2 separate regions of the Homo sapiens genome follow, and region 2 is linked to region 1. The links come from fine-mapping of genetic effects on gene expression. Tissue or cell type: skeletal muscle. Region 1 holds a variant in brackets; the other region holds the start of a gene. All regions are shown on one strand. Distances are between the middles of the regions.

Region 1 (10,998 bases):
AGCTATAGTGGCGCTATCTTGGCTCACTGAAAGCTCCGCCTCCCGGGTTCACGCCATTCTCCTGCCTCAGCCTCCCAAGTAGCTGGGACTACAGGCGCCTGCCACCACGCCCGGCTAATTTTTTGTATTTTTAGGAGAGACGGGGTTTCACTGTGTTAGCCAGGATGGTCTTGATCTCCTGACCTCGTGATCCATCCGCCTTGGCCTCCCAAAGTGCTGGGATTACAGGCATGAGCCACCGCGCCCGGCCTTAACTAACTATATATTTTTTGAACACAAGAACCACTGGCTTTATTCTTCTCTCCACACCCCATCAATGAAATAAACCAAATGCATTTTTTTTTTTTGGTGCTGTTGATAATACTATTTGGACTGGGTTGTGTCTACTCCTTAGATATTATATGTGACAGAAGTGAGTTGAAACAAAACAACAAACTGTATTTAATTTAATTTGATGCAGTTTCTTTCCAAATAAAAGTTCATCTTTCTTCTTTACAATTGACACTGGTGATTTCTTGTCTTTGAATTCAATTACACTGTAAGAGCAGAACTTTTAGCAAATGAAGCCACAGAGATGACCCAGAAATTTCAATTAGTTCATCAGTCTAGATACCAGTGTAACTGGCCTATTGAACAGTCTGAACTTGTCAATGTACAATAATGAAAAAATTTTTTCCATCCATTGCTTTTAATCATGCTCGGTTGCATCTCCCTTTCTTTCTTCTTAACTAGCTCTTGGGCATGAGTAGATATTAAAACTCAATCTCTAATCAACTCTAATCTCGTCTTCTCCCTGATTCCTGTCACATGCCTTATCTATGGCTGGGTGGATTTGTAATGGGGGAAGCTCCTTCACTTCTACCAGCTACTATAGGTTGGGGCAATGCAGAGGTAACAGAGAAAGGGGCAGAGAACTTTATACTTACTAATTCACCATTGTAATCCTTTCTTATACACTGCAGCTTCCCCAGCCAGCAATGGGCAGTTAGTCCCTTCTCTGTGTAAATATGTAGGTGTTCTTCTCTCTAGGGACTTAAGCATGGTTCTTTCAAGGCCCTTGCAGGAAGGCCTCCAAACTGCATAGTTGCCACTACAGACCTCTGGCTTCTCCTCTTCTACCCCATTTCCCTGTCCCTGCCTCTCAGCCGTCACCCTGTAGTCTCTTGTTTCTTGATTCTACTTGTCTAATACTAAGGCAGTTCAGGCACAGCTACCTTGAATATATACCCACCTGATCCAATGGGACTGACACAGCTTTGCTATGACAAAAGGTGGGACTATAAGCCTTCCTCTTGTCATTCCCATTTTGTCCTGCCACATCTCACCAACTCCCATCTCCTCTAGCTCAAATAGGCACAGGAGGGCTTATGAGCAAGTCTGAATCAAAAGCTACTTTATTTTATTTTATTTTTTTGTGGGAGACCGGAGTTTTATTATTATTCACAACAGTCTCTCGAGCATTCAGGAAGCAGAGTTTTTAAGGATAATTTGGTCGATGAAGGGAAGCCAGTGAGCCACGAGTGCTGATTGGGCAGAGATGAAATCATAGGGAATTGAGGCTGTCTTCTTGCGCTGAGTCAGTTCCTGGGTGGGGGCCACAAGATCAGATGAGCCAGTTTATTGATCTGGGTGGTGCCAGCTGATCCATCAAGTGCAGGGGATGCAAAGTATCTCAAGCACTGATCTTAGGAGCAGTTTAGGGAGGGTCAGAATCTTGCAGCCTCCAGCTGCATGACTGCTAAACCATCATTTCTAATTTTGTGGCTAATATTAGTCCTACAAAGGCAGTCTAGTCTCCAGGCAAGAAGGAGGTCTGCTTTGGGAAAGGGCTGTTACCATCCAAAAGCTATTTTATAATGACATGTCTGTCTGCCCTTCCTGTTGGCTCTACATCTCTGTGAGTATCTCGGTGCCTTCCTTGGTAGTTTGGGGCAGGTGGGAATCCTCCTCATTCCATTCTATGGGATAAGAAGAAAAACCTGACACTCTCCTCTCTAGATTGACTACTCTCACCGCTGATGATTTTTTTGGGTCCTGTCCTAGTCGTTTGGTAATAGCTACAGGAAATGAGGATGGCAGGTGGAGGATAAACGGTCATGTGGCTGCCTCTTGGTCTGCCTGGGATGTGTCCAGTACCAGTGAGTAGTGGTATCTCTGGATATTTGCTTCTAGTTGTCTATGTCCCTATGATTTGATAATGATAAATGGTTCTATTAGCTTGTACCATATGAATACCACTTTTTTTCTAAACCAAAAATGGTCAAATATGGGCAGTTTCATATTTGAGGTGGATTTAGTCATCCTTCACCAATCCTGTTGTTTTGTTTGAGTTCAGAGTTGAAAATCCCCTCTGACAGTTTTGGGGTAAAGAATTGGGAGTTTCAGCCATGGCTCCTGATTACTATTCTGGTTTAATAATTGGGCAAAGTTATTGAGCCTCCCCTAGTTATTGAAGGGAACTTCAACAGGAATGAAAAAGCAAACTTCAGATATGAGAGTTTTTCTTTTTCTTAGATTTAAAGTGGAACTTGTCAATTTGGGAATTATTTTTGGTACATGTTTTAAAATATTTTATTTTCTTATTAAAAACAATAAAAATTCTAATTGTTATCCAGAAAATAACAATGTAAGACCTGAGAAACCTGATGGGAGTTTAGAAAATTTGTCAATAATAGTAGTCCCAGCTACTCAGGAGGCTGAGTCAGGAGAATCACTTGAACCTGGGAGGCGGAGGTTGCAGTGAGCTGAGATTGCGCCACTGCACTCTCCAGCCTGGGCGACAGAACGAGACTCTGTCAAAAAAAAAAAAAAGAAAAAAAAAGTGTATTTCCCTCTATTGAGTGAATTCAGCTAGAATGTTCTAGAATTACATTGTTTTCCCATTATTGTTACCAGACAGCCATGTCCATGGAAACACCAATTTGTGGGACATAGTTATTTCCACCAGGTTGTTACAGAAGTAAAACAGTCTCAGGAACAAAAGGCCCTTTTGTACCCATATGAAAGGGAGAGAGAACATAATTTTAATATTGGGTATTTATCAGAATTACATGCATGTAGGGTAGCACGAAAGTGATTACAAAGTCTGGACAGAATTTGATACGAACTTATGTAGGAAGGTGGAAGATAGAACAACTAACACTTCTCTTGAGAGACCAGAGGATGCACTTGTGATTGCCTTATGTATCCCTTGTGGGAGACCCCTGAACCAATTATGGAGCCAGTTTTACATGTTAAAAAGCCCACATATTTGCACTGTAAAATTATTAATAAAAGGCTGAGCCTTTAAATCAGGCCTATCGTATGTTCAAGGAGACATCCTAAAGAGGAGAGGGTGGGTAGGCAGCAGCCTCCCTCTTTAAAGAAAATGTCACGGTTGTACCTTTATGAGGTACTTTTAAGAGTGTTAATTAATGGCTACAATTCTAGTCACCACTTTGTTGTTGTGTATCACAAAACTTCAACACATTCACATCCTTTGACCCAGTAGTTCAAGTTCTAGAAATCAATTTGTAATAAATATTTACATTTGCCTTATTTGTATACAAGGAAGTTCATCTCAGAATTATTTAGATATGAGTAAGAATTTAGAAACAATCTGATGTCTATGAATAAGTGTTGGTTAAATTAAACTTGGTGCATCTTCCCATGTCATCAACTATATTCACTGTAAATTTAATGACCTGGGAAGATGCTCAAAATATATTATTAGGTGAAAAAAAATCACGACAAAACCTTACATATATATGATCCCAATCTTCATACCTAGACATGTACCAGAAAAATACCCAAAGGATTTTAATAGGGCTTGTGTCTACAGGATGTATGAGGATAACTTATATTCTACTTTTTACTTTTGTCTATATTTTTCATTTATATTTATAAAAATTTATATTAAGAAAAATGAATGCTATAAAAAACAAAATGAATTGTAAGCTAGCATTTAATAGTAGCTGCTGTTCGAGTATATTTAATCATTTATAATGAAAATTTCTTTTGGACTTGCCATTTGTGCTGTAGAAGAACATCTGTTTTAATATTTTCCTGGCTGTATTTCATTTGTACATATTTTCTCTAAGTACTTGGAGTCTACTTTTCTAAGTGTGTTTCTGCCATAATCCCTTTGATCTTGAAGAAGCAGCATCAGGCCTGGAGCTGGAAATTCAAATAATAACTCCAAACCTGTTAGGATTTGGTGAGAAGTCTGTAGAAACATTTCTTAATTTTTTCTCATCCTGGCTTGTCTGTCATTGCACAGATAATGGACAGAGGAACCAAAATCATATGACTATTCAGACAGATTCAATCCCTAAAAAGGAGTAGATGCTGAAGGGCCTAAGTGGGTGGAGGAAGGGAAGGGAGGATCAGTCTTTCCAATATCCCTCCTCTCCAAGGAAGAGGATGCAAGGAAAGACTCTTTGTCCCTCTGTAGAGGGAAATCCTGAGTTGTTCTTCTTCTCTGTAAGGGAAGAAGTGGGTAGAGTTATCAAAGCAAATAGAAAACGCTGATGGAAGATACGCAGAGGAGTTAAGCAGCTTTAAGTTTTAAAAACCTGTCTTTCAAATTAAAAAATTATGCAGAATGCTTTAATTTATTTCTAATATGTAATTGAAAATCTCTAATTGTAAAGATCTTGAAAATGCTTTTTGATTGAGAAGTTACAAGATTTTCAAAAGAATGCTTAAATTAATA[C/T]GCAGGATTATTTGAAAAAAGTACTTAAATACTCTGAATATTGGTAACCACATATAGCAGATATAGTGATTTCTCAGGTAGAGAGATTATTCCATCATCTGCAGACCATCTATTTCCCCAAATATCCTTAAGTTAAATTTCATTATATTATTAACATCTGAAGATCTACCACTAGATGGCACTTAAAATACACGAGACTCGGAGGAATGCTTCAAATGAGGGGCGAGGAAAGACACAGGACAGAAATACAACTTGAGTTCTCAGAACAGTGTTATCTACTTGCAGGAAAGGAAGAAAAGCAGGCCCAAGATTATTCTGAGACAATTGGAGGGTAAGATTCTGAAAATGAACCTATAAGTGTTAGAATGTTTCTCTTTAAACATAATTTCCCTTCACCTAAATTGCTATTGATTAGCAGGTTTTTAGCATTAAGACAACAGGCTGTTGGACTAATGAGAGTTTGGTAAACAGTGAAGGGCTGTGTTCTCTCTGAAGAGGTTTGGAGTATGCACCAGGAATCAAAATGTGGGGCTTTAATCCCAGCTCGGTGTCTGCTCTGTTGTTTGGCACTGGGCTAACTGCTCTTTTTCACCTGTGGTTAATTTGATTTGTGCACCTCTTATACATCAGGGGAGAAAAATCCAGTATAAGGACATTGTGATGCACAAAACTGAGCAGCAGAATGTAAGAACTGATTTCAGGAACATGGCAGCAGGTGGCCAGTCTCACTGGATGTGGCAATCGGATATGGATGAAGTGGCAGGTACACTTGGAGGAGTGGTAGGTGTTCATTTTTAGCCAAGGCATTATGCAACGCCATCAGGGAAAAAGCACAGGCAAGTAAACAACAGCCAGACCTGCAGTACTAGGCACCAGGCAGCGTGTGCAGTCAGAACACACAGGGAGGAACGATGGGTGGATCAGTGTGAGGGATCTGGTTCAGGCTCTATAGCCAATCACCAGAGTGACCTTGGACACACAGGGAGGAAAGATGGCTGGATCAGTGTGAGGGATCTGGTTCAGGCTCTATAGCTAATCACCAGAGTGACCTTGGACACACAGGGAGGAACGATGGCTGGATCAGTGTGAGGGATCTGGTTCAGGCTCTATAGCCAATCACAAGAGTGACTTTGGACATGCTAAGATGTCTCTGGGCCTCTGTTTCCTCACTTAAAAATGGGAGAGTTTAGCTTACATGATTTCTGAAATCCCTTGTAAAGCTTTTAGATCCTATCAGGACATAATTGTCAATTTTTTGGATGTGGGCATAGCAGAGATTTTATCATCCTCCCTGTTTTCTAGAACAGGACATGGAGGCTGAGAAAGCTGGTAAATGTCCTGGCTTCAACTCTAGACATCGTCTATTCTTGCTGCCCTGCAGTGTGACCTGGACTGTATCAGCTTCATTTGGACATCTGTAGGAAATGCAGCCTCTCAGGCCTCACCCTGGACCTTGCGATTCAGAATCTACATTTTTAATAAGACTGCCAGGTGATTCATATGTACATTAAAGTTGAGAGGCACCAGGCTGTACTATACTGTCTGAGCAAGCCCCAGGCTGCTGGCCACAGGAGAGCTCATCTTACAGCTAAGATATGTTTCCTTTTCTTTCTCATATGAGGACATCATTTAACTGAGGGGTGGGATTTATCCATTCCTTCAACAAATATTTGTTAAGTAACCACTATGACTCAGTCACTGTTACCCTCTGGCATAACAGAAAGGAACAAGAATGTGATCTCTGTCCTTGGAGAGGAGTAAAGAAATTACTTGTAGGGGTCCTTCTTCTTTCTCTTCCTCTCTTTCTGTCTTCTATGTCAGGTTAGAATTGTAGGTGGCAAGATGAGGCCTGCAGTCTTCAATAGGCTTTGGTTGAGGATGTTTTTTTAACTTCTAAAAATCTAAGACAAGGTTTCTGACAGTAAACATGATTGAAATTTTGGACCAGATAATTCTTTGTTGTGGGGAATTGTTTTGTGTTTCTCGTAGGACATCTAGCAGCATCTCTGGCTTCTAAAGACACCAGCAGTAATCCCTGAGTTGTGACAACCAATAACGTCTGCAGACATTGGAAATGTCCCTGGAGACTTTATCACCCCCAGTTGAGAACTAGTGAGAGGATCCAGGGTATAGTCCAGAGGAGAGGCCATCAGAGCCATTTAAGTCTGATTGCATATGAAGTTTTCAGAAAAAGGGGTAAACGGGAACTTGAGCTTTCTCTGTCATTGTCAATCCCTTTCTCCGTAGTAAGGAAGTAGAGGTGGGTTTCAGGGCAGAACATCTATTTAGAATTAAGTAGTAACATTGTATTTAAAGTTTGTTTAGAATTGTTTCTTACAGAAATGAGGTAGAAGAGCAGAAATCTCTCTTACAGTTTCTATACTCAAAGCACTCTCTGAAATAAATTAGAATTGTTTCTCTGGACAGCCAAGATTTACTCACCCCTCCTGGTGTTTTTTGTTTGCTTTCTTTTTTAAGGTGACAAGACTTAAGTAGAGAAATACTGTGTTTCACATTTTGAGCCAACCAGATAGTCTATAGATACATTTTGTAGTCCATTGTAGATCCCCAAACAACCAGACACCTTTTTCTTCTTTGGAATCAGTAGGATTTAAATAATATGCCTGGAAGACTTCTGAGCCACTAGCATCTTCAAGTTCCTGGCTAAATTTACAGGTGAGAGAGGACATACTTCTGAAGTGATTCTAGCGCAAATAAATACCTCTGGAGTGAAAAGAGAGCATTTCTCTTGGACAAAAGCCAAAGCTGAACAGTCATACAAACCCTCTGTGTTCCTGAGTCACGAGTGGAGGGAGATGTGACCTTTCCACAGTTCTGTGTAAATTTCAGAAGGCTAGTCTGTCTTGACTCGATTGTAGCTTGACCTCTGTCCTGTAGGAGCAAGAATTGACTTCCTGAAATCCCTCTTCAAATTAAAATCTGCTCTCTTGACTCATTTGTTTAACCCCTATGACATATGTTAAAGCTGTGGACTTAAAATGCTGGAGAGGGGCTGGAGCAGCAGGAAAGTCTCTGGGTCCCACACAGCCTTTCTCGCGACTGGCAATGTGAAGTGTATTATTGAAAAAGGCTGGCAGCTCAAGGCATTGTTTGGCTTCCTACCTTGGCAACAGCAAGCAGCAAACTGTAGAGAAGTTTCCCCCTAATCTGCTGGCAGCTTCTACACTGGTGAAATGCAATATGTAGTTTGCAGCACACTGATCCCTAAGAAGTGAATAATTTACTTGAAGTAATTTTGCTGCTACCATGTTTTCAGACATCTTTGCCAACTGTGGAGAACATAGTCTGTTTTGACAATCACCAATAACCAATTTTCCCTGGGGGCAATTAGGGTAAGGCCTTGGGGTGCCCAGGTGAGGGTGCTAAATGCAAATTCACCCCACAGGCAAATTGCAGTGTCTGACTTCCTTGCTACTCAAAGTGGACTGAGAACAATGACAGCAGCACATGGAGGCTTGTTAAAGGTGCAGAATCTTGGGCCTGCCCCAAACCTACTGAACCAGAATTTGCATCTTAACAAGGTCCCCAGGTAATTCATATACATGCTTAAATTTGAAAAGCAATGCTGTTTTAGGTCAGCAGTTCTTAACCTTGCCTGAACTTTAGAATTACTTGGGGAATTTTGAGATATCCTGATGCCCAGGCTAAAATCTAGACTAGCGGTTTTCAACTGGGGATGATTTTGCTCCCTAGGGGACATTAGGTGACATCTGTGGACAATTTTGACTGTCACAAGTGTAAGGGTGCTACTGACTTCTAGTGGGTACAGGCCAGGATATGGCCAAGCATCTTGCAATACAGTGGACAGCCCCTCACAACAAAAAATTATCTGGACCAAAATGGCAGTAGTGGCAGCACAGAGAAGCCATTTTCCAGACCAATTAGATGAGAATCTCTGGGGGTGGGAACCCGTAACCATGTGGGAACCAGTAACTATGGTTTTTTGTTTGTTTGTTTGTTTGTTTGTTTGTTTTAATTTGAGATGTAGTCTTGCTCTTTTGCCCAGGCTGGAGTGCAGTAGCAGGATCTCGGCTCACTGCAACTTCCACCTCCTGGGTTCAAGTGATTCTCCTGCCTCAGCCTCACAAGCAGCTGGGACTACAGCTGCGTGCCACCACACCCAGCTAATTTTTGTATTTTTGGTAGAGACAGGATTTCACCATATTGGCCAGGCTGGTCTCAAACTCCTGACCTCGTAATCCATCTGCCTCAGCCTCCCAAAGTGCTGGGATTACAGGCGTGAGCCACCGCACTGGGCCGTAAACAAGTATTTTTTAAAAAATACTTCCCAAGTAATTCCAATGTGCAGTCAAGGTTGAGAACCACTGATAGATTTGTTGCTAGAGAGCTATCAAGACAAGGAGTTTGGATTTTATAGGTCCAGAAAGATAACTTGGTTCCAGAATATGGGGTAAGTTGAACTATGGTGGGTGACCAGTGCGTCAGCTGTGGAAGAAGGAGGACTATGGGACAGGGACGCAGATGGGACTAGTCAGGAATCACCAAATTGGCCCTTAAATAAGCAGGTTCAGAGACCTCCTGTAAATCCAGCAGGGAACTAAAGGGTGTAAATGAATACCTGGGGTAAAAGTCTAGTCATAGGCACTTTCGCAGTGACTTATTTCTGTGCAACAAACCACTCCAAAACTTAGTGGCTTAAACAATTTTTATCATTTATTACAGTACTTTCTGTTGCTTGACTAGGTTCAGCTGGATGGTTCTCACTTAGGGCCTCTCATGTGGGTGCCATCAGGTGTTGCCTGAGGCTGCAGTGTCCTGAAGGCTTGTCTGTGCTGGACATCTGTGATGGCTCACTCACGTGGCTGGTGGTTGATGTTGGCTGTTGGCTGAGGACTTAGCTCAGTGCTTAGTGAGGCTATTGACTGAAACACTGCCCATGGCTTCTCCGTGTGCGTTGGGCTTCTCTCACTATGACAGCTGGGTTCCCAGAGGGAGCATCCCAAGAGGCCAGAACAGATGCTCCTAGGCCTCTTATGATCGCGCCTCAGAAGTCCCTCTGGGTAACCTCCACTGCATTCTATTGCTCTAAGCAGTTCCAAGTCCACCCAGATTCAAGGAGGTTGTGAAATAGACACTTCATCTCTTTTTTTTTTTTTTTTTTTTTTTTTTTTTGAGATGGAATCTTGCTCTGTCGCCCAGGCTGGAGTGCTGTGGCGTGATCTCGGCTCACTGCAAGCTCCACCTCCTGGGTTCACGTCATTTTCCTGCCTCAGCCTCCCGAGTAGCTGGGATTACAGGTGCCTGCCTCCACACCCAGCTAATTTTTTGTATTTTCAGTAGAGACAGGGTTTCACCTTGTTAGCCAGGATGGTCTCGATCTCCTGACCTCGTGATCGGCCTGCCTGGGCCTCCCAAAGTGCTAGGATTACAGGCGTGAGCCACCGCTCCCAGCCCTGAAATAGACTTCATCTCTTAATGGAGGAGGGGCAGAAGAACATGTGGGATGGGAGATGTTGCTGAAGCCCTCTTTGTAAAATACCATCTGCCATAATAAGGGCCAGGCAATGAAAGGATAGGTTAGGGGAAGGCTGCTACTCCAAGAAATCTATAATGATTGGGAGTTTCCTGCTAGAATGCAGATTCAAGGCATCTCCACCCATGCTGGAGAGGGCTCTGGTAGCGGAGAAACCTACTTTGCAGATGAAACATTTTCCTCACATGCAGCTGGAGGGAGTGGGGAAAACAGTGGCACCAAAATACAAATAAGCAAAGTAGATGCTAAGCTCATGAGGATTCAGAATAGATGGTCATTTATAATTTTCCTTGAGTTTAAATCATGCACAATGATACTTATGTAGGAATAAGTCTCTATCTAGATCATCAGCACTCGTGACATCTCCATTTGGTTCTACTGAGTTGTGCATATTGCATAAATACTATTATCTTTAAAATGTGGCTGTCTATTAGAATTATCTGAGAGCACAAGGAAAATATTCCTGGGTCACCCCCAACATTCAGTGAATCAGCATCTCCGGACTTGGGGTTCAGTTGTGTATTTTCCAAAATGTGCCAGGGTCACTCCATGTGGTCAAAAAACAGGAGGCAAATTTTAGTGCTGATGATGGAGATGAAGAGGAAATAAAAGGTTTCAGAAAGTGATGAGGCTTTGACATAATCCAAAAGTTTTGCATAAATTAAATAGTAAAGGAAGTTAGATGCCACATGAAAATTTAGAATTAGCGAAGCTCTTGGATTGGATTCTTGTGAATGAAAGTCATTGGTCTATGCTTAGGTCTAAATGTGCTAAAGACTGTTCGTATTGT
Region 2 (10,998 bases), 950 kb before region 1:
TATGATATGCTGCAAACTTGATAAATCCTAATTAGAAAAAGGAATATTTGGCAGTTGGAGGTCATTTGGCAAAGTGGTCTCTTCCCAGGATATAGCTCCCTGGAGCCTGATGGCTAGGCTAAGGTCAGTCATATGTGGAACCAGCACCAGCAGTAGCCTTGTGTTAAGATCAGGAAGCTGCATTTGCATCTGTCAGACCACCCTTGGCCAACTCTAGCCTGTGGCTCTGTCTCTTCCTCCTTCAGAACTCCACCATGTATAAAGACAGATACATATTTGGCTCTTAATGATAGGCTTTTCTATTCTGTAATATTTGTTTCATGTGTTCGTTTATATCTCTGACTAAACAGTTAATCCCTCAGGTGCAAGACCCACATTTTGTGTTTCTTTTTGTATTTCACTTTGAGGAGAGTGTCCTGAACACTGTAAGGGTTTACTAATCTTTGCTGATTGATTTCCTTCCTAGGGCTGTGGAATATAAATTACATGACCATCTGTCTCTTCAATTTTCAACATCTCTGTGTGTGCATGTGTGTACATGTGCACGTATGTATAAGAGAGATCTGAGATTCAATAAATAATAAACTTGAGGAATGGAGTTCAGAGGCAGAAGAACCACAGAAACAAGTCAGCCTTATGTGGGTAGCCTCCCCTCCGTTTGTTGTGTATCAATTGGGGTTAATAACAATTTTTTTTTTTTGAGACCTGTCTCGCTCTGTCCCCTAGGCTGAAGTGCAGTGGCATGATCTCTGCTCACTGCAAGCTCCGCCTCCCGGGTTCACGCCATTCTCCGGCCTCAGCCTCCTGAGTAGCTGTGACTACAGGCGCCCACCACCATACCCGGCTATTTTTTCTGTATTTTTAGTAGAGATGGGGTTTCACCGTGTTAGCCAGGATGGTCTCGATCTCCTGATCTCATGATCCGCCCACCTCGGCCTCTCAAAGTGCTGGGATTACAGGCATGAGCCACTGTGCCTGGCCTATAACAATACTGATTCCAACCACCTCCCAGGATTACTGGGAACTTTGTAAGAGATAACATGTACTTAAAGTTCCTTATGATTATTATCCGGTTCACATGAAATGGGACCACAGAGGGGAGTGGAGAAGAGGCATTAAAACTAGTGTGTGAAGAAAGTATCATAGCTGACCCAACCCCACTGGCTTTGGTTCTACCTGCCTGGAGACAATACATTTTGTAGCACCAGGCTATTGAATTTCCATCCGATTCTAGGCAGCAGGCATCCTCCTCTTCATTTTCCTTCACCCACCCCAGCCAAATCCATCAGTTCCACCTCTGACTTCACAATACCTAAACCCATAACCTTCCTCCCTGCCCCACTCTCATCTTGGCTTAGGTCCTAGTCTTACCTTATAGCTTCTGCCTCTTTCTGCCTTTGGTCTCTGACCTCTTTCCCTCCCCATCCACATGGAGGGCAGTTATGGCCCTAAAAAAGCAAACGCGATTGTATAATTTCCTGCTTTGAGAATCTTGGGGCCAGGTGTGGTGCCTCATGTCTATAATCCCAGCACTTTGGGAAGCTGAGATGGGCGATCACTTGAGGTTAGGAGTTTGAGACCAGCCTGGCCAACATGTCAAAACCCTGTCTCTACTAAAAATATAAAAATTAGCTGGACATGGTGGTGAGTGCCTATAATTTCAGCTATTTGGGAGGCTGAGGCAGGAGAATCGCTTGAACCCAGGAGGCGGAGGTGGCAGTGAGCCGAGATTGTGCCACTGCACCCCAGCCTGGGCGATAGAGCAAGACCCTATCTAAAAAAAACAAAAAACAAACAACAAACAAACAAAGAATCTTTGTTAAATATCTAAGTCTATATATTTATGGTGTCTATATCTGAAGAGGGAAGCCCAGTTATGAGGCTGTTCCAGTCAGGTGAGAGATAACTGGGCATATGATCTAGGGTAGACAGAGAAATGGGAAAAGATTTGGGAAATAATATATAAAACTATAAACTCTATGTGTGTGTGTATTGTTACACAACATGTGAACAGTAGTCATCTCTAAGATTCTTCTATGAATTCATTCAATAAATGTTTATTGCATGTCTGCCATGCGTCAGGCACCATTTTAGGCACTGCAAACTTGAAGGAATGACAGACACAGACCCTGCTGTCTTTTAGCTTATCATCTATTGAGGAGAGGAAGAACATAGCGAAAATAAATAGGAAATCAACTAGGGCCAAGTGATAGTGACTTGGGGAACTATTTGAGATAAACTGGTCAAGGAAAGCCTGATGAGGTAGAAGGTGGGGACTTGACTCTGGAGGTGGGGGCTAAGACTCGGGACCAGACTCTAGATTAGAGTTCCAGATTTAACACCTAGAAGTCACTGCCCCTTTCCATGGCAATGACTCAACAACCCGTTACCAACCTTTTTCTAGAAATTTCTGTATAACCTGCCCCTTAATTTGCATGTTAACTAAAAGTGGGTAGAAATATGAGTGCAGAGCTGCCTCTGAGCTGCTACTCTGGGCACACGGCCTTATGGGGTAGCCCTGCTCTGCAAAGACCAGTGCCTCTGCTCCTGATGTACACTGCCACTTCAATATAAGCTGCTGTCTAATGCCACCTGCTTGCCCTTGAATTTTTTTTTTTTTTTGAAATGGAGTCTCTTTCTGTTGCCCAGGCTGGAGTGCAGTGGCGCGATCTCGGCTCACTGCAAGCTCCGCCTCCCGGGTTCACGCCATTCTCCTGCCTCAGCCTCCCGAGTAGCTGGGACTACAGGAGCCCGCCACCACGCCTAATTTTTTGTATTTTTTTTTTTTTTAGTAGAGATGGGGTTTCACCGTGTTAGCTAGGATGGTCTCGATCTCCTGACCTCGTGATCCGTCCACCTCAGCCTCCCAAAGTGCTGGGATTACAGGTGTGAGCCACCGCGCCCGGCATCCCTTGAATTCTTTACTGGGTGAAGCCAAAAATCTTCCCAGGCTAAGTCCAAATTTTGGGGCCTGCCTGCCCTGCATCATGAGGAGGTATCTGAGTGGAACGTCAATGAGGAGGAAGAATGAGTTGGAGACAGGCCTGGAGAAGAATATTCTAGATAGAAGGAAAAGGAAGAGCAAAGACCCTTGGGTGAGAAAGAGTTTGTATTTTTGAGGAAAGCATGCTAGTGTGAATGCCAAGCAGTATTCTGTGGGAAGATCTCAGGAGGTGTCTAAGGGCATGGAGATAAGTGGTCAGATGCACGGTCTGTTTTATAGGTGGAATTAACTGCTTGCTGATGGATTGACTGGCTGTGAGGGTGAGTGGCAAGAAGGAATCGAAGACGAGTTAGGGTGGATGGCGATGCCATTTGCTGAGACAACTGGGAAAGAAAAAGATTTGGGAAAAAAAGTTGAGTTCAGCTTTGGACATGTTAAGTGTGATATGCTAGTCACTTCAGTGGAGATGACAAATGGCAAGCTGGAGAAATAAGCCTGCAACTCCAGGAGAGGACCTCGCTGTAGATTTACTATGGTGAGTCATCAGCATGCATATGATATAACAGTCATGGGGCTAGGAAGTTAGTTTCTCCTCAGGGAGTTTGAAACTGTAACTAGTTCAGAGAAGAGGGTGGAGGGCAGCCCCGAATACCCCAGCATTTACCAATAGAGCAAACAGGGACTCAGGAGCCTGGGGAGTGAGGTTAGCCAGAAACCCTCAGAGTGGAGCACTGGTGCTCTTACTGAGAGAGGAAGGTGTGTCCAGATGGAGGATGTGATTAACTGTCCTCAACATCCCTGAGAGAAGGAGTAAGACAAGGGCAGGGAAGAGAAGAGAATGCAAGATTTGGCAACATGTAGGTCATTATGATGACTATGACAAAAGCAGTTTGAGCTCAATTCTGTGTGGAGTATAGGGAAGGAGGGTTGAGGACGTGCATTTAGAAGGGTACATAGTTCTCAAGAAGTTTTGCTGAGCACATCTGTAATCCCAGCTATTTGGGACGCTGAAGTGGGAGGACTGCTTGAGCCCAGGAGTTCAAGACCAGCCTGGGCAACATATCGAGTCCCTGCTTTAAAAAAAAAAAAAAGGAAGTTTTGCTGAGAGGCTAGATGGATTATGATTTTTGTTTATTTTTCCTGTTTATCCATATATTATTTTTCAACAATGAGTATTGATTACTTATATAATAATTTTAAGGCTGTACACATTGCAGACAGCACCCCACTGTTTGAAAAACTCCTCCTCAGTAGAACATGGCAGACCTTCATCTTCCTTCCCTGAACCTTTTCCAACCTTAGGCTTGCCATTCTCCACCAGTGCTAATGTCATGTCTCTTGAAATCTGTATTGAAGTCAGTATTTCATTCTTGCCAGTTTCCACTGTGTGTTTAAATTTGGAGTCTGGTGTCTAGCATTAGCTGGGGTTGGAGCTTCCACTCCTCTCAGCATTGGTAAGCCTCCTCACCCACCCCATCCCATGTCCAAGATCACCCAGTTACACACTTACCATCTACCCAGTTCATTCACATCATCAGTCCCAGAGCTGCAGAGATGCTCTTTTTCTACCTCCTACTTCTCTGGCTCTTAGAGAGGCAGCATGGGATAATGGGGCAAGCGAATAGGGCCTTAAAGTAGAGGGACAAGGGTTCTCTTCCCTATCTGCCACTTATTAGCTATGTGACCTCGTGTAAGTCTCTTTTCTTTTTGAGACAGGGTCTCCCTCTGTCACCTAGGCTGGAGTACAGTGGTATGATCATAGCTCACTGCAGCCTCGAACTCCTGGGCTCAAGCTATCCTTCCACCTTAGCCTTCTGAGCAGCAGGGACTACAGGCACATGCCACCATGTCCGGCTGATTTATTTATTTTTATTTGGGAAGATGGGGGTCTCACTATGTCGCCCAGGCTGGTCATGAACTCCTGGTCTCAAGCAACCCTCCAACCTTGGACTCCCAAAGTGCTGGGATTACAGGTGTGAGCCCTGGCCTTGCCTCAATTTCCTCATCTGTAAAACGGGGTTAGTGAAACTCACATCCTATCAGTGGTTTTGAGGATGGGCCGACTCTTGTATTGCCTGCTCTAGTACAATCAGCAGCTAAGGCGGCTCACTTTCCGGCCGTGCTACAATAGGTAAGAACTAGGATGCTTTAGACGTGTGACTGGGCAGTGGGAGCCCCTCACATGATCCCGAGATGCCAGACAGTGTCTCTCCGCACAGGGCGTGTGCTGGTCCAGAGGCCCGTTTTTCCAGTCGCCCCACACCCCGGGTCCGCGATCACGCTCCCCCCACCCATAGCCGAGCCTGACGCGGCGGTGGCTCATGCGCCTTTCCGTCCCAGCCTTTAGCCACGGACCACACGTCCCATCTCAGGCGCCCCGCCCCTCCCCCGCCCCCCGCCCCCGGCGCGCCTCCCCAGGCTGCCGGCTCCGGTGTCTGAGCGGCCGCGCCCGCGAGCCGTGAGCGATGATTGGCTGCGCCACGGCGGCGGGCGGTCCGTGGGCGCACACACCCTCCCCGCGCAGCCAATGGGCGTGCGCACGTCACTGATCCGGAGGCCCGCGGGCCGGCAGCCCCTCAATAAGCCACATTGTTGCATGAAACTCCGGCGCAGGAGTCCCGGGCTGCCGCTGGCAACATCGTGTCACCCAGCTAAGAAAATCCGCGGGCCCGAGCCACGCGCCTGTGAATCGGAGAGGTCCCACTGCCCGAGTGGAGCCGGGCTGAGATTCTTCTCAAGTTGAGCCTCAGTGATCCTGTGGCCGAAGTTAGCGCCTTGACGTGGGACAACCGGACACGTCGCCAGGAGAGAACTGAGGCGCCTTCTAGCAGTTGTGACGCCAAAATCACGTCTCCGGAGACCCGCGCCCTCCGCCAGCCGGGCGCACCCTCGCCGGTAGCCTTCTTTGTGCGCCGTCCGGACTCCCAGCTCCCGGCCCGGCAGCCGAGCCCCAGCACAAAGCAGTCGGACCGCGCCGCCCGCCTCCCCTCTCGCGTCTCCGCCTCGGTTTCCCAACTCTGCGCCGTCGGGCCGCGGCAGGATGATTGCCTCGCATCTGCTTGCCTACTTCTTCACGGAGCTCAACCATGACCAAGTGCAGAAGGTAAGTCAGCGCGGGCGGGGCGGCAGGCTGGGCTCTGGCAAAGTGGTCTGGCCTCCATCAGTCTCTTCCTCGACCCTGCGGGGACCCGCTTCCTCCCTACTCCGGGCCTGGGAGCGGAAAAAGTTTGGGCAGCCGGGACACTCCTGGGCGCCAGGAGCCACGTCCGCTAAGCACAGCCGGCGAGTGCGCGCGGGCGGGGAGCCGAGGTCGCGCTCCGCCGGGCGCCCTCCCTCCCTGAGCTCCGGCACGCGCTCACGCTCTCTCCCCCAGTCCCTTTTTCCCTGTTACTGGAGGGGCGGGTCACCCCGCAGGTAGTCAGGGATTGCTGCGCCCACGTGGGAGGGAGCCCCCTTCTGCAGCGCGAGTTCCGGCGAGAGCACGTGGAGAGAATCGTGGCTGCGGGAGGCTGCTCCGCTGCCGCGTGGGGCCGCCGGGGGCCGTCCGCGCTCGCGGACCGCGTGTAGGAGACGAGCGGTTCCCTTCTCCTTCCCCGCGGCCCTGCGGGGGTGGGCTCGAGGAGAAGCTGACCCGGGAAGGAGTAGGAAAGGGGCAGAGGAACTCCGCCCGCCGCGCCCCCTCCCCGGAACTGTGGCGCCCGGAACTGAGGCTCGGCGAGGGGCGTCCCCCATTAACCCCCGCCCCTCCAAATCAGCCTCGGGACCGCCCAGCCTCGTGTCCTCAGGATCTGCCTCTGAGTAAGGGGAGGACTTTGGTTGTTACTTTCTGGTTTGCCCTAAAAGTTACTCGGAGAGGCCAACGCGCCGCGTTCCTGGATTACTTGAGATTCTTGAGATTTATGTCCTTCCGAAAACGAGCTTTTTTTTCCTTAAGCCTCGACCTGTCTGTTCCCACCTGGCTCCGCAGCTCCCTATGGCTGAGCGCTCACCGCGGCCGGGTCATTTACATAAGAAAGAGCCTCAGGCCAAGCCGGGAAGCTCTCATTCCCCGCCTCGGGGTATGGGGGTGGGGATGGGGCCGGGGCCGGGGACGGGCAGGGCCAGGGGCGCGCTCAGAATTGAGTTTCTGAAATGCCCGGGATTAGGGGATTGGCTCCTGGCCCGGGCCTGGGCTACGATTTGAGGTAGGGGACAAGTTGGGAGGGGATTAGCTGGAGGGAGGTTGTTTTAAGAGCTGTGAGGCAACGGAGCGTTGCTCAGTTACATACTTGGAATTTCAATATCTGATGGGAACACATTTTTGGGAAAATGTCTTGCCATTACCGTTCTGTGCGACAACCTGCTCATATTCCCATTCTGGCGGTCCCGAGGGCATAGGAGGCATATTAATGTAGTGATGGCGCGTGAACCTCCAAGAAAAGCAGAAGTTACCCAGCCTCAAGTCTGGAGGAGCGAGCAGAGGCGGTTGATTTACTTGGGTTTTACTGTTTGTAAATGGCTGTTATTCTCTAATTCCTGGGATGTGGCTCTGCACCTTGATTCAGTTTACTTAAAAACGTGCCTTTGATTTGAGCTGGCAGGATCTTGGTAACTTCTCAACTTCTAAGAACTCTTGGGGAAGGCTATCATCTCTTGGCAAGTCCTAAAATACACAGTGGAGCGTCATTAATCTCAGGGAGTTCTCCTTTGGGTATTACCCCAGGACATTTGAATCCTTGCATAAATTTACTCTTCCTCAATCCAGAGGAGGGCACCAGGGTTGGAACCCCGTTGGAGTTATACCACTCTCAATCTTGGAATGGGGGTCATCTCTCTTCCCCCAGAGTGGAACGGGAATTAACCAGGGTATCTGGAAATGAGTTGTAATCTCTGTCTTGTGGTTTATTAACCATAGCACCCTGAGCCTCTTTGGACAGCCCGTTTCTCTTTGTGAAATGCAATAATAACAGTAGGCTTGTCCACTTTATGGAGTTGCGATTATTAAGCGCTGCAGTGTGCAACTGTCATTCCTGTAGGTTTTCTCTACCCTTGCAGCCACCTGTCAGTTTGAGAAGTGTCCCTGAAGACCCTTGGGTGTATTTCCTCTAAACTACCAATAGGGGCAGAATTGAATCAGGCCTTTAACTCAGTAATTGTCAGAACCTGGGATTTGACTCCCAGCTTAGGTGAGCGAAGCTGTTTGATTCCAGTGGCAGTTACATAGAAAGCAGAGACTCAGAGTATCTTGGAACCATCTTTCTGAGCTGCCATTGGAAAGAAGAATTAAGAGAGAAGAATGAAAATTTAGTATAACTTTAGAGTCTTTTGAAAAGACCTTTTGATTTGGACCCTTCTGAAATCCCCTTGTGATAAGATAATCTTACATATTCTGGGTTGTAGTCTGAGGACGTGGAAGGCTTGGGTTCACCTGCCCAACGAGGTCACTTGTCGTCTCCTGATGGACAAGCCCAGTGTTTTGGGGCATTAGAGATGAGAATCAGGGTTATTTCCTCACTTTTGCCAATTGGAACTCAGGAGCGACTGCAGAGCACCTACTGTGTACCTGGCACTGTTCTAAGCTCTTAGGTATGTCAGCTTATTAACATTCAAATCAGCCCCATGAGGTGAAGACTGATTGTTATTAGCATCCCTGTTTAACTGAGGCCCAGGGGTAACTTGCCCAAGGTCTCCAGCTTTTCTGTACGAGCTGGGAATCGAAGCCATGCATTTGGCTTTAGAGCACCATGCTCTTGAGCACATACTTGCCTGTCTCTGGGGAATGTGAGCGGGCTCCTGGCCCGGGCCTCTGCCCACTCCTGGCTGCTGGTAGCACCCCCACCCATCATGACCACAGATGGAACTAGCTCTTCTGTTGGTTTGATCAGTGGCACCAGTACCCTCTGGCTACTCCAGCTGAGAGTCCTGGATTCATTTTCATCAACTCTCTAACTCTGTCAACTGGTCTCTTGGTTACTTTGGAGGCCTGCTAAGGGTGTCCCTAAAACTCTTTCTGGAGCCAGACTGGATCATTTCAGGAGCTCTCTACAGCTCTTAATTGCCTCCCGCTTCTACCCCCCAGCTTAGCCTCATCTTCCTCTCCATCCTTTCATTCCTCTGTCCTGCCTGTTCACACTAGGTCCTTTTGCCCTTGTCTTTTTTTTTTTTTTTTTTTTTTGAGACACAGTTTCACTCTGTCACCAGGCTGGAGTGCAGTGGCGCTATCTCTGCTTAGTGCAACCTCTGCCTCCCAGGTTCAAGCGATTCTCCTGCCTCAGCCTCCTGAGTAGTTGGGATTACAGGCGTGCGCCACCATGCCCAGCTATTTTTTGTATTTTTAGTAGAGACAGGGTTTCACCATGTTGGCCAGGATGGTCTCGATCTCCTTACCTTGTGATCCACCTGCCTCAGCCTCCCGTAGTGTTGGGATTACAGGCGTGAGCCACCGCACGAGGCCTGCCCTTGCCATTTTTGTGGCCCTGAACTCTGCTTGGCTTCTTTCCACTTAACCCCTTCCAGCTCAAATGCAGTTTACTGTCTTAATTTTCTTTCTGCTTCCTTCTCCCCCTCCTGTGTGCCAACATTAGTGTGTTTGAACCTTGCATGACATTTGTTTCATTCCACCATCTGTTAGAGTTGATGGTTTTCAGTTTGGGTTCCTTCCTCAGGGCAGGGAGAATCTTGGCTGTTAGGTTTGTCGCTGCAGTTCCTGGCCACTGGTGAGGTGCTCAGTGAGTACAAGAGTAAAGGAGGAGACCTTTCTGGAGAAAGAAGCTAAACCAGGGCTGCAGGAAGTGGAGGAGCTGGGCAGGGCCAGCTAGTCTTAGGCTAAAGGGATGGTATATGGGTGGACACTTGGAGGGGTAGTTCGCAGTTATCTCTTCATCCAAAGCATGACCTGAGGCCAAAGCATGACCTGAGGCCGGTCCTGAGGAGGGAGAGAGAAAGGGAGGAGAGTTTCCTGTCCTTCAGCAATCAAGACTGTGTGTCCTGCCTATGGAGAGATGGAAGATTCTTTCTATTTTTTTTTTTTTTTTTTTGAGACGGAGTCTCGCTCTGTCGCCCAGGCTGGAGTGCAGTGGCGCAATCTCAGCTCACTGCAAACTCCACCTCCCGGGTTCACGCCATTCTCCTGCCTCAGCCTCCCGAGTAGCTGGGACTACAGGCGCCTGCCACCATGCCCGGGTATTTTTTTGTATTTTTAGTAGAGACGAGGTTTCACCGTGTTATCCAGGATGGTCTCAATCTCCTGACCTCGTGATCTGCCTGACTCCGCCTCCCAAAGTGGTGGGATTACAGGAGTGAGCCACCGCGCCTGGCTGATTCTTTCTATTGATTGAGATAAGTTAGTATACAAGATGCAGGATTTTGTCATTTAAGAATGGAGAATCAGGGTTAACCATAGAGATAAAATGAAGTATATACTCCTTTCTCTGACCATTGACCAAATTGTTTTAATACGCATAGACTGGTGACATTTGCACTGGAATCCTGTAATAGACATAGCTCATGTAGATTCCTTGTTGTATGAGCAAGGGGTGACCTTCAATGCTGGGCTTGAGAGGAATATCTTGGAAGCGAAAAGATTGAACAGAGACCCCAAGAGTCAAGAAAGCCAAGAATTTTAATGTTTTTTTAAGAACCTACAGTGAGTGCAAGGCCCTCTGAGTGTGATATGGGAGACAGAAACCCAGATACTTTTCAGTTGTCTAGAGAGATATGGCTGCTAGGTCAAAAGAGTGAATTACCATGGGTGGGGCTGGAGTTAGAGCCTCAAGGAACCTTGGCACATTTTGGACACCTACCACGTGCCATTAGTCCGCACGTATGGGATTAGAGTATCAAGAGTAAATTGCTGATTGAAACCTTAATAATATTATTTTTGTCTATGTTAATTTTGATTGGACAAACTGACATTGACAGGTACAATTCACTCCATTTGTTCAATATGTAACATCTTGGTAACCTAACTCTGTCCCTTTCTCTGCTCAGAAGACAACTGATGGTAGTTAGGAATACTTTGTAGCTTTTGTTAACCATCCGTTTGTTTTATATTGCCAAACTTACATTTCAGAGAG

Direction of the effects. Positions count from the first base shown, and alleles are read on the strand shown. Sizes are in standard deviations (SD) of each study's normalised expression.
With allele T in place of C in region 1, the expression in skeletal muscle of the gene that starts at base 5,391 in region 2 is lower (moderate effect, 0.58 SD a copy in GTEx).

Evidence for each region. PIP is the estimated chance that this variant, and not a neighbour inherited with it, causes the effect.
Region 2: it holds the start of HK2-DT, and the variant in region 1 is fine-mapped to the expression of HK2-DT in skeletal muscle (GTEx, PIP 0.95).

The regions. Positions count from the first base shown.
Region 1 is chr2:75,782,850-75,793,847 of GRCh38, forward strand. No RefSeq gene overlaps it. Among named protein-coding and RNA genes, the nearest start is that of GCFC2, 77 kb to the left of the region's middle. The variant C/T (reference allele first, on the strand shown) is at 4,694.
Region 2 is chr2:74,828,597-74,839,594 of GRCh38, forward strand. It overlaps HK2-DT (HK2 divergent transcript), which reads right to left and starts at 5,391. Exons shown (of 1, transcript NR_185897.1): 1 at 4,059-5,391. HK2 (hexokinase 2) reads left to right here and starts at 5,531. Exons shown (of 18, transcript NM_000189.5): 1 at 5,531-6,047. The coding sequence starts at 5,985. RefSeq lists silencers at 5,023-5,092, 5,273-5,502, 6,423-6,672, 8,611-8,768 and enhancers at 6,249-7,125, 6,903-6,972, 8,285-8,800.